Linked DNA regions of Homo sapiens. The protein of the gene in region 1 interacts with the protein of each later gene in a pairwise test. Each region holds a gene or a part of one and is shown in the gene's direction. Other genes may lie near its edges. The genes, in order: PPM1D, CASZ1 and EPSTI1.

Region 1 (3,656 bases):
CCTGGTTAATTAAAAAAAAAAATTTTTTTTTTTTTTTTGTAGAGACAGAATGTGGCTGTGTTCCCCAAGCTGGTCTCCTGGCCTCAAGTGGTCCTCCTGCCTTGGCCTCCCAAAGCACTGTGAATGTAGGCATGAGCCACTGTACCCTGCCAAATTTTGTGTTTTGAATGTGCTGTAGAACTTCTGAGAGTTCGCCTCATTTATTCATTCACATTTATTGTAGTAGAAGTTTTTTTTTTGTTTGTTTGTTTTTTAATTTACTTCAGTTTGTTTAAAAAGAAAGAGGATAGCCAGGCACAGTAGCACATGCTTATAGTCCCAGCTGCTTGGGAGGCTGAGGCAGGAGGATTGCCTGAGCCCAGGAGGTCAAGGTTGTAGTATGTGATGATCACACCTGTGAATTAGCCTGCACTCCAGCCTGGGCAACATATTGAGACCCTGTTGTTAAAAAAAAAAAAAAATAGAAGAAAGGGTTTTATCAAAAGCTAGTAAACACCCCAAATAATTGAAAGGGCTGAAGAAACATACAGTATACTCTAGGCTGAGCTTCCATGAAATAACTTCTGCAACCAGATTGCAAACTGGATGGGCTATGAAGCTGTCCTTGCTGTGATTTCTGCCGGCAAAATTGATACCTTTTCTCTGCTTTTTTTTTATTTTAAATATTGCAAAATAAGCATATGTATAGAAAAGGTCATAAAACATAAATGTACACTTCAATGAATAATTATAAACTGAACACCATCCAGTTAGGAAAGAACATTGTCTGCACTGCAGATATCTGTATGTCCTTTCTGATTTCATATTTCTATCTCCCCCTAAAAAACTACCTTCCTGACTTTCATCATGAGAGTTCTGTAATGGTTTACTTGTTTTTCTTAATAGTTTCACCACTTTTCTCTAAACATGATGGTTGTTTTTGAAGAAAGTCATGCTCTATGTGTTCTTTTATCATGTGCTGCTTGTGAGATTCTTGTGTGCTTTATGTAGTATTGTCCATTTTCATGTTGAACAACTTGGGCTGTTGCCCATTTGTAGCCCTTATTATTGTTTTAGAGACAGGGTCTTGCTGTATTTCCCAGGCTGTAAACTCCTGGGCTCAAGCGATCCCCCTGCCTCACAGCCTCCTGAGCAGCTGGTACTACAGGCACATACTACCATGGTTGACTCATGTATTTGTTGTGTATGTATGTTAATTTGTGGTATATACCTAGGAGGTAGTCAAAGAGTATACATATCTTTACCTTTAATAAGTAATGCCTAAATGTTACCTGCAATGTACCAGTTTACACTTTCACAGTAGTTGATGATAGTACATGTTGCTCCATTTTCTTGACCACAGTTCGGTTGCTATTGTCGAACTTTAATTTGTGCGGTCTTGTAGTTATGCAGCACTATCTCATTGTGGTTTTAAATTAGTATTTCTCTGATAATTAAAGAAGCTGAATACCTTTGCATATTTTGTGGCTGTTTGGATTTCCTATTTTGTAAAAGGCTTGTTTAAGCTTTTTGTCCATTCTCCCATTTGGGTAGTCTGTCTCATTGATTTGATTTGTAGGAAAATTTTATATATTCTGGATGCTTTTCCTTTGGCGCGTAGGTGTGTGTATTCTGTTCTCTGTGTTGTTTTTATTCTAATAATGGTATCTTCTGAAGAATAGATTTTTTTAGTTGCTTTTAAAAAAGATGTGCAATGTGATAGATGATTTTATGTATGTATACATTGTGAAATGATTACCACAGTCAAGTTAATTAACACATCCATCACCTCACATAGTTACCTTTTTTTGGTGGTGAGAACACTCAAGATTTATTTTCAGCAAATTTCAAGTATACAAAACAGTATTATTAACTATACTCTCTGTGTTGTACATTAGATACTAAGAACTTACTCATAATGGGAAGTTTGTGCTGTTTGACCAACATCTCCCCACTTCTCCTAACCCCTAATCCCTGGCAACCGTCCTTCTACTCTTTCCTTCTGTGACTTTTTCTTTAGATTCCACGTATAAGTAAGATCACACAGTATTTGTTTTTTCTGTGTTTGGCATATTTCACTTAGCATAATGTCCTACAGGTTCATCCTTGTGTTGCACATGGCAGGATTTCCTTTTTTTTTTTTTATGGCTGAACGATATTCCATTGTGTATACATACATTTTCTTTATTTATTTATCTCTTGCTGGATACTTAGATTGTTTTCATATCTTGGATGTTTTGAATAATTCTGCAGGGAGTGTTGAGGTACATGTATCTCTCTGAGAGACTGATTTCATTTTCTTTGGATATACATTCAGAGGTGCAATTCCTGAGTCATATGGTACTTCTATTTTTAGATATATTTTTAATTCTATAATATTTTCCATAATAGCTATGCCAATTTACATTTCTATCAGCAGTGTACAAATGTTCTCCCTTCTTCACATCCTGGCCAGCACTTGTTTACTGTTATCTTTTTGATAATAGCCATCCTAATAGGTGTGAGGTTATCTCTCTCTTTATTTTTTTAATTTTTTTTTAGATGGGTCTTCTCGCTCTGTTGCTCAGGCTGGAGTGCAGTGGTGTGATCACTGTAGCCCCAGACTCCTTGGCTCAATGGAACCTTCTGTCTCAGCCTCCTGAGTAGCTAGGACTACAGATGTGTGCTACCATGCCCGGCTAATTTTTAAATTTTTAGTGGAGATGGGTCTCGTTATGTTGTCTATGCTGGTGATAAATTCCTGGCCTCAAGCGATCTTCCTGTCTCATTTTGTTTTTGATTTGAATTTCCGTCATGATGCTTGATGTTGAGCTTCTGTTCATATACTTGTTGCCCATTTGTATGACTTCTTTGACAAATGTCTATTCAGGTCATTTGCCCAGTTTTTTTTTGTTTTTGTTTGTTTTGTTTTGTTTTGTTTTGTTTTGTTTTGAGACAGAGTCTCGCCCTGTCGCCCAGGCTGGAGTGCAGTGGCATGATCTCGGCCCACTGTAAACTCCACCCCCTGGGTTCAAACTATTCTCCTGTCTCAGCCTCCCCAGTGGCTAGGATTACAGGCGCCTGCCACCATGCCTGGCTAATTTCTGTATTTTTCGTAGAGACGGGGTTTCACCGTGTTAGCCAGGCTGGTATTGAACTCCTGACCTCCTGATCCACCCACTTCGGCCTCCCAGAGTGCTGGGAATACAGGCATGAGCCACCGCGCCCGGCCTGCCCAGTTTTTAACTGTGTTTTTGTTTGTTTGTTTGTTTTGCTATTGAGTTGTATGATTTCCTTATATATTTTGGATATTAATATCTTACCACATAGTGTAAAGTTTGTAAATATTTTCTCCTGAAAGTTGCCTTTTCATTTTGTTGATGGTTTCCTTTCCCGTGCAGAAGCCTTTTAGTTTGATGTAGCCCAACTGTTTTTTTCTGCTTTTGTTGCTGTTTTTTTTGTTTGTTTGTTTGTTTTTTTGAGACAGAGTCTCGCTGTACTACACAGGCTGGAGTGCAGTGGCGTGATCTCAGCTCGCTGCAATCTCTGCCTCCTGAGGTTAGGATCCCTCCTGAGCTGGGATTACAGGTGTGCGCTACCATGCCTGGCTAATTTTTGTATTTTTAGTAGAGACAGGCTTTCACCATGTTGGTCAGGCTGGTCTAGAACTCCTGACCTCATGGTCCACCCACTTTGGC
Region 2 (3,656 bases), on another chromosome or scaffold:
CACCCACCCCCTTCTTGTTAGCCACCTTAGAGGCGGTTAAGGAGAGTTTATGGGGAATATTGTTGAACTTCAGTAATCAGGTTTCCAGCGATCTTATGCCTCCTGTTTAATTTATTAGACTAGTTATTTATTCTGTTGATGATAATCTGTTGCTGGTTTCTATGGAGATGTTAAACTGATCTCTTTCAGAAATCAAACTCCATATGCACTAAAACGTTTAAAGGGGCAGTGCCTTCCTCTTTTTTTCCCCTTGCCTTGTTTGTTTGTTTTTTAGACTTTGCACCTTGCCGAGACTTGGAGTCTTGCTCTGAGTCTCGGCGCATTTTATTTCCTTCTTACGAAGGAGAGGAGCCCAGCCCGGGAGCCTTACGCTTTGTGGCAAGTACAGCTTATTATGGCTAGAAGAAAGCGAAGGCTTTGATCTCTAAGTTGCATCATCATTTAAAACAGATCATTTCACCACCACCCCCTTCCTCCCCCCATCATATAAGAGCAAAATTCTTTCAAGATCAAAGAGTCCAATCTTTTAAAAAAGCTATTGTTTAAAAAAATAAGAAAGTCAGTTAAATATGAAACTCCCTTTTATATCTGCTCCCCTTATGTTTAAATAATTTTTTAATAAGAAAAACAAAACTTGTAGCTCAGCTAATTTTTTTCACACTTATTAATAGTTTATCTTGCCCCCCACCCCTTTTTAATTTAAAAGAAGTTCAAAGTTAGATTTCTCTGCCTGTGGGGGTTGAGGTATATTTGCTCCTCTTTTAGATCCTGACCATCTGTTTTAGGAAAATTAGCCTCTGGGAAGAGGGGAAAAGGAGTTTTTAGTCAAACTTACTGGAGTGCTTTATTTATTTATTTATTTTTTGGGGAAAATTGTCACCCAAATATTTTAAAGTTCAATTTTGCCTGCTTTTTGGGAGAATATCGATAACCTCTGTCTGGTATGTGAGAGTACATCAACTTTTTCTCCTTTTCTTCTCTGCCCAGGTATTTTTCTGTAGATTTGTGACTGGTTGGGGGTGGGGGTGGGGGCGTGGGGAGGCGGTGCAGTGAATTAAGAAAGGAAGACAGAAAAAAATTATCTTGTTTTGTGACACTGAAAAATTGCAAACTGACTCTGACTCAGATATTTATCACGCTGACAGATATGATACAAAGCGATTGCATTTCCTAATGATCCTTTGGGACTAAGTTGTAGGTAGAACCATTTAATGCATTTTTAATATTAAAGTAAGGCAGGGGTTGCATTTTCTTGGAGGTAGGGGGAGTGAATGTTCTTCCATAGAGATGGTGCTTTCTGAATATACTGCTTTACTTTTTCAACTGGACACCCCCCCCAACCCCACCCCTCCACATTTCCATTTACTTTGTGTGCGGGGCCGGGGGGGGGGGGGCGGGGGGGAGGGGTAAGCCATGTACAGAGCATTTGGCTTTCATAAATAAATTTATATCTGGCCAGAAGGTTCAATGCTAAATAAGAGCACACTTAAAAAAAAAAAAAACTGACTCCACCCCTGCTATAGGAAATAAAACAGGCAATACTTGAGTTTTTTTTTTTTTCTTTCTTTCTGCCACCCTGGTTCTCTTTTATATTATTTTATATTGGAGGGAGGGAGGTAGAGTGGTTGTTGCTGCTCAGCTCAGAGGCGAGAGGAACCATTCCTATTATTTCCCTCTTTGCTATATTTTTAAAATTTGTTTGATTTGGATTGCAAACAGAACAGAGGCTTACGAGTAGAAAAGAGCACTGTGGCTTTAAACTCAGGAGTTTGCATATTCTCCTTGTATCTTTCCCCTTTGCTAATTATTGTGTTGTTTTCAGAGCAAATATGTCATATCCATGGCGACCGGGCAGGTTTATTGTCTTTCTGAAGCAATAGCTCACATAAGTAATTAATGACTTTCTTTTTTTTCCTCTGGCTTAGGTTAAACAGATCATTCAAGGAAAGTCATCTCTCTCTTCTCTCTCTCTCTCTCCCCCTCTTTTTCTCTCTCTCTTTTTTTAGCCCAGTGACATAAGAACATGAGTAGAACAAGAAAATACTTTAACCAAGAAGTCAACAGCTTATTTTCCCCCATTTCTTTTCAAGGCTGAAGTGTCAGCTTTCAGACATATGAGGCTGTCATTCTCGCAGCCCTCAGCAGTGCAGTCCACGCCTGGGCTGGAAACCCACTGAAAGGTTGTGTAGTTTGGAGACAAGGGAGGTGTTAGCATGACGGGGGGAGGAACCTGGAGGAATTTGCTTTTGAGGTTGGGGGAAGCACTCCAAAATAAGTATTTCTCCTGTATTTAGCAGAATTTAATTAAATTGTTTACAGGAAAGAATTAATGAGTTGGTAGTAATGTGTTTTCCCACCTCCCTTCTTTTTCCCAGTCTAGTTAATTGGAAAGACTAAGTTTTTCTTTTTGCTTCACCTTCAGCTTCCGCTTTCTCCGACCTTTGTCTCAAGTGCTTTTTCCAGGAAAAGTAGCTTTTGGAATCCCCACTGGTTAATATTTCCAGAAGTATAGTGGGGTTTTTGTTTTTGTTTTGCTTTTCCCCTTAGACCTACAACTCAGAGCTGGTTTCTTCTTCTCGGGAATCAACAGCTCTGATGATTGACTAACACTTGGATTTTTCAACTTTTTTTTTTTTTTTTGATGGGAAGAGGGTCTCTTCGGATGTAAAATTATATAGATGGCACATCTCCCCTTCTGCATCTCGTGGCAGTATTAGGGAAGGTAGAAGCAAATTTTTTCTTTTTTAAAAAAAAAATCACCTTTTATGATCTACCCTTTACAAATGGACCTTTGCTAATAAGATTCCTCATGATGTCCCCCCCCAAACTTTAGAATGTGCTAGATGTCCTACTAATATTCTCCAGGGCTCGCTCGCCCCCTCTTATAGACATACATTAAGTACATTTATACCATCCTCTCCCCCTTTTTAAAATGTCAGGCATAGCCAAGGTTTTTGTGTGTGTCCTTACAAGGGGGGAACGAGATAAAGAGAGAAGCATTTATGTTGTACTCACACACAATTAAAAAGAATATTCTCCCCACCATCTGAACGAAGTTCAAAAAGGCTGTGAGTCCACGGAATGAATCTTTAGGCTTTTGGCATTGAAAATAAAAATATAAAGAAGAGAGATTTATTTGGTATCTTGTTTCTGAAGAGGAGAAGAGAAGGCCGAGCCAGTCTGATGCTGAGACTCCAGCGGAGTTGTAATTGAGCCCGTAACCTCTTGATGTCTATATCAGAAAAACAGACATGAGCAGAGGGAACCGAAGAGAGGCAAACAAGCCTGGTAGAGGAGAGGGAGCTCAGGGGGAGATTCACGGAGAGAGGAGAGAGATTTAATTTATAGACATTTTAAAAACCGTAATTTCATTAGGATCTGTTCTTCCCTTTCTCTGAAGGGCAGCCCGGCAGACCGATAAGGCCGGTCCCTGTGCCCGGGATACGTGGCGTGGTTGGGAGGGTGCAGGCTGGAAGCATCATTGCCAGCACCCCGTGTTGGTTTCTTCTCTGTCCACTTTCTACTGGCTTTCTTATTTTGAAATTAAAAAGTCCCAGATGGCCAGAAGTCAGCCGTGGTTCTGGCTGCCTGGTGATCTCTCCTCTGGCTGCCACGCCGCTCTGCGAGTGGGTCTGTCTTCTGCCTGGGCGGTGGCA
Region 3 (2,833 bases), on another chromosome or scaffold:
TTCAGCTTGATGCATAAGAGCGTTCTTTGCAGGAACTTCATTTTTGACTACAAAGGCTTTGAATTTTATTTTGCTGCTTGCAGTAATTTTTGTTTTCTTTTTCTTCCAGGGTATATGAGAAAATATTGACTCCTATCTGGCCTTCATCAACTGACCTCGAAAAGCCTCATGAGATGCTTTTTCTTAATGTGATTTTGTTCAGCCTCACTGTTTTTACCTTAATTTCAACTGCCCACACACTTGACCGTGCAGTCAGGAGTGACTGGCTTCTCCTTGTCCTCATTTATGCATGTTTGGAGGAGCTGATTCCTGAACTCATATTTAATCTCTACTGCCAGGGAAATGCTACATTATTTTTCTAATTGGAAGTATAATTAGAGTGATGTTGGTAGGGTAGAAAAAGAGGGAGTCACTTGATGCTTTCAGGTTAATCAGAGCTATGGGTGCTACAGGCTTGTCTTTCTAAGTGACATATTCTTATCTAATTCTCAGATCAGGTTTTGAAAGCTTTGGGGGTCTTTTTAGATTTTAATCCCTACTTTCTTTATGGTACAAATATGTACAAAAGAAAAAGGTCTTATATTCTTTTACACAAATTTATAAATAAATTTTGAACTCCTTCTGTATAAATGGGTCATTTTTATTTTTAATGAAAAGTTATTGGGGTTTTCTCTCTTGAAGGGTCTCATTTTAATTCCCTTTTCCAGGCCGTATAGATCAAATATAGTACTGTCATTACTGTTGGCTCTTGTTTTGGTCTTGACTTACTAATAGTGTTACCCTGATTTTCAGAGGGGGACAGTTTATCTCCAGAAAGGCCAATGTTTGTATACACATCAGCTAGACACAAATATAGACATCATATGTAGTTTGTACATGTTTCAGAAACTTGTTTTTTCTTTGCTCTGTGTAACCTATTTCCTATTGCTAGTTCAGTTGGCTTTCTTATTCACTTCTGTGACCCTGAACCAGTTCTCAGACCCTAGAGTGTAAGAGCATTGATTTTCTACGCTGTGTAATCTAGCTCAATCCCTCTGTCCCCTCCGCCTCACCGTCCCCCAGCCACCACATTGTATAGCAAAAGCATTACATTCAATCCTAGAATAAAGGTAAATACAACAAATCATCTTTGCAGCTGGACAACTAATAATACTTTGCAGCATTAAGAGATCTTCTGTGTTACCAGTCACTCTGTTGAAATGAACTTTCCGAATCTCTTTATTCAGGAAAACATGGGGTTTTGAAATTCTTGGGCCAAGAGACATAACTGAGGGGTTCGCAGAGCTAGGCAAGGGTGCACTAGGAAAGGGCCACATTGGTGGGTGGGGGGTAACAGAGAACAGATGGTGTCAGGAAGTTTCTCTGGAGTAAATAATGTGGATATTCTTGGTTTCCCTCTCCTCCGCCAGCTGAAGCTGTGTTAGTGCTGTTGACACTAATATAAAATGTTTGGTCCATTTGAAATCCTTGTCATTGCCTTATATGGGGGAAACTCAATCCCCCAGCCTGTGTTGGAAATATCACCAAACTGATTGTAAATGTGCGGCTGTAGCAGACATTTTAGTGTGGTGGTGTGCAGCCATTTCGGCCCTACACCTGCCAGCCTGGCTACCTTACAGTTGTGTTCCGATTTTTGCGTCTATGCTTGGTGTGCCTCACTTGCTGCATTTTCCAGCATGCAACCAGGAGTTGACGTAGGAAAAAGGGATGCTTTCTTACTTTGGAAGCTCTCAGGGAAGTTGGTGTCAATTTCTCCTCCACTGCCTGGCCTACCCTGCACTCCCAAAGATTTTGTGCAGATGGGTAGTTCCATTTTTTAAAAATTGTGCAGATATGGAAAATTGTGACTTACTTCATGACCAGAACTATCTAGAATATGTGTGGGGGTATAAACATCTTGCTTAACCAAATATCTATGTAGGCAGAGGTAACCAGGAGAGAAGCAAGACTTGCTGCCTAAAGGAGCCCACCATTTTACTTTTCACATTTAATCTGCCACGTTGAATCAATTGGAATAAAACCTGACTCGCAGGTGACTGGACAGGAAATCCCAAAGTTCCACCATTTCTATGCTTAATTTTAATGTCCCCCCGCTTTTTTTTTTGTAGAAAATAAAAACAAGAAAATCGTTCCAATGTAAGATGTTTGTTATAGAAACTTTAGGCAATACAGGTGTGTAATAAAATGTTTAATAAACTTCTAAACACTTTTGTATTTGGATTTACCACTTTTTCCTTTGTGGTTTCTTCTTGGTATTATGTTGATAGATCCTAAAATCTACAAAGCAACAACCTCTACCCAGTGGCCTATTTTAACAAAACAAAGGATTTCCCCTACTACTGGGCTTAGTTATATTATAGTAGATAGTCAGGCAGACAGGAGCAGGCCAAGAGAGGCCCCCACTACCAGGAATGTCAGGCAACCATCAGGTGATGGTCAGCCAAGTTATTTTTGTTGTTTTTCTTTTTTTTTGAGATGGAGTCTCACTCTGTTGCCCAGGTTGGAGTACAGTGGCATGACCTCGGCTCACTGCAACCTCTGCTACCCGGGTTCAAGAGATTCTCCTGCCTCAAACTCCCAAGTAGCTGGGATTACAGTCTCCCACCCGCCACCACGCCCAGCTAATTGTTGTATTTTTAGTAGAGACGGGGTTTTGCCACGTTGGCCAGGCTGGTCTCAAACTCCTGACCTCAGGTGATCCGCCTGCCTCAGCCTCCCAAAGTGCTGGGATTACAGGCATGAGCCACTGCACCCAGCCGGCCAGCCAGTTGTTAAGCTGACTCTCTAAAGTAATAATTGGTTGCAGCCAGTGCCAGGGAAAGGCAGTCTCCCA

Evidence for each region.
Region 2: the proteins of PPM1D (region 1) and CASZ1 interact in a two-hybrid assay, tested with the Homo sapiens proteins (one large-scale study listed by BioGRID and IntAct).
Region 3: the proteins of PPM1D (region 1) and EPSTI1 interact in a two-hybrid assay, tested with the Homo sapiens proteins (one large-scale study listed by BioGRID and IntAct).

The regions. Positions count from the first base shown.
Region 1 is NC_000017.11:60,617,107-60,620,762, forward strand, and holds part of PPM1D (protein phosphatase 1D), read left to right. Parts: intron 1-3,656. UniProt on the Homo sapiens protein: Involved in the negative regulation of p53 expression. Required for the relief of p53-dependent checkpoint mediated cell cycle arrest.
Region 2 is NC_000001.11:10,790,066-10,793,721, reverse strand, and holds part of CASZ1 (zinc finger protein castor homolog 1), read left to right. Parts: intron 1-3,656. UniProt on the Homo sapiens protein: Transcriptional activator. Involved in vascular assembly and morphogenesis through direct transcriptional regulation of EGFL7.
Region 3 is NC_000013.11:42,885,779-42,888,611, reverse strand, and holds the end of EPSTI1 (epithelial-stromal interaction protein 1), read left to right. Parts: intron 1-109; coding exon 110-118; coding exon of another isoform or gene 119-362; 3' UTR 363-2,224; downstream 2,225-2,833. UniProt on the Homo sapiens protein: Plays a role in M1 macrophage polarization and is required for the proper regulation of gene expression during M1 versus M2 macrophage differentiation.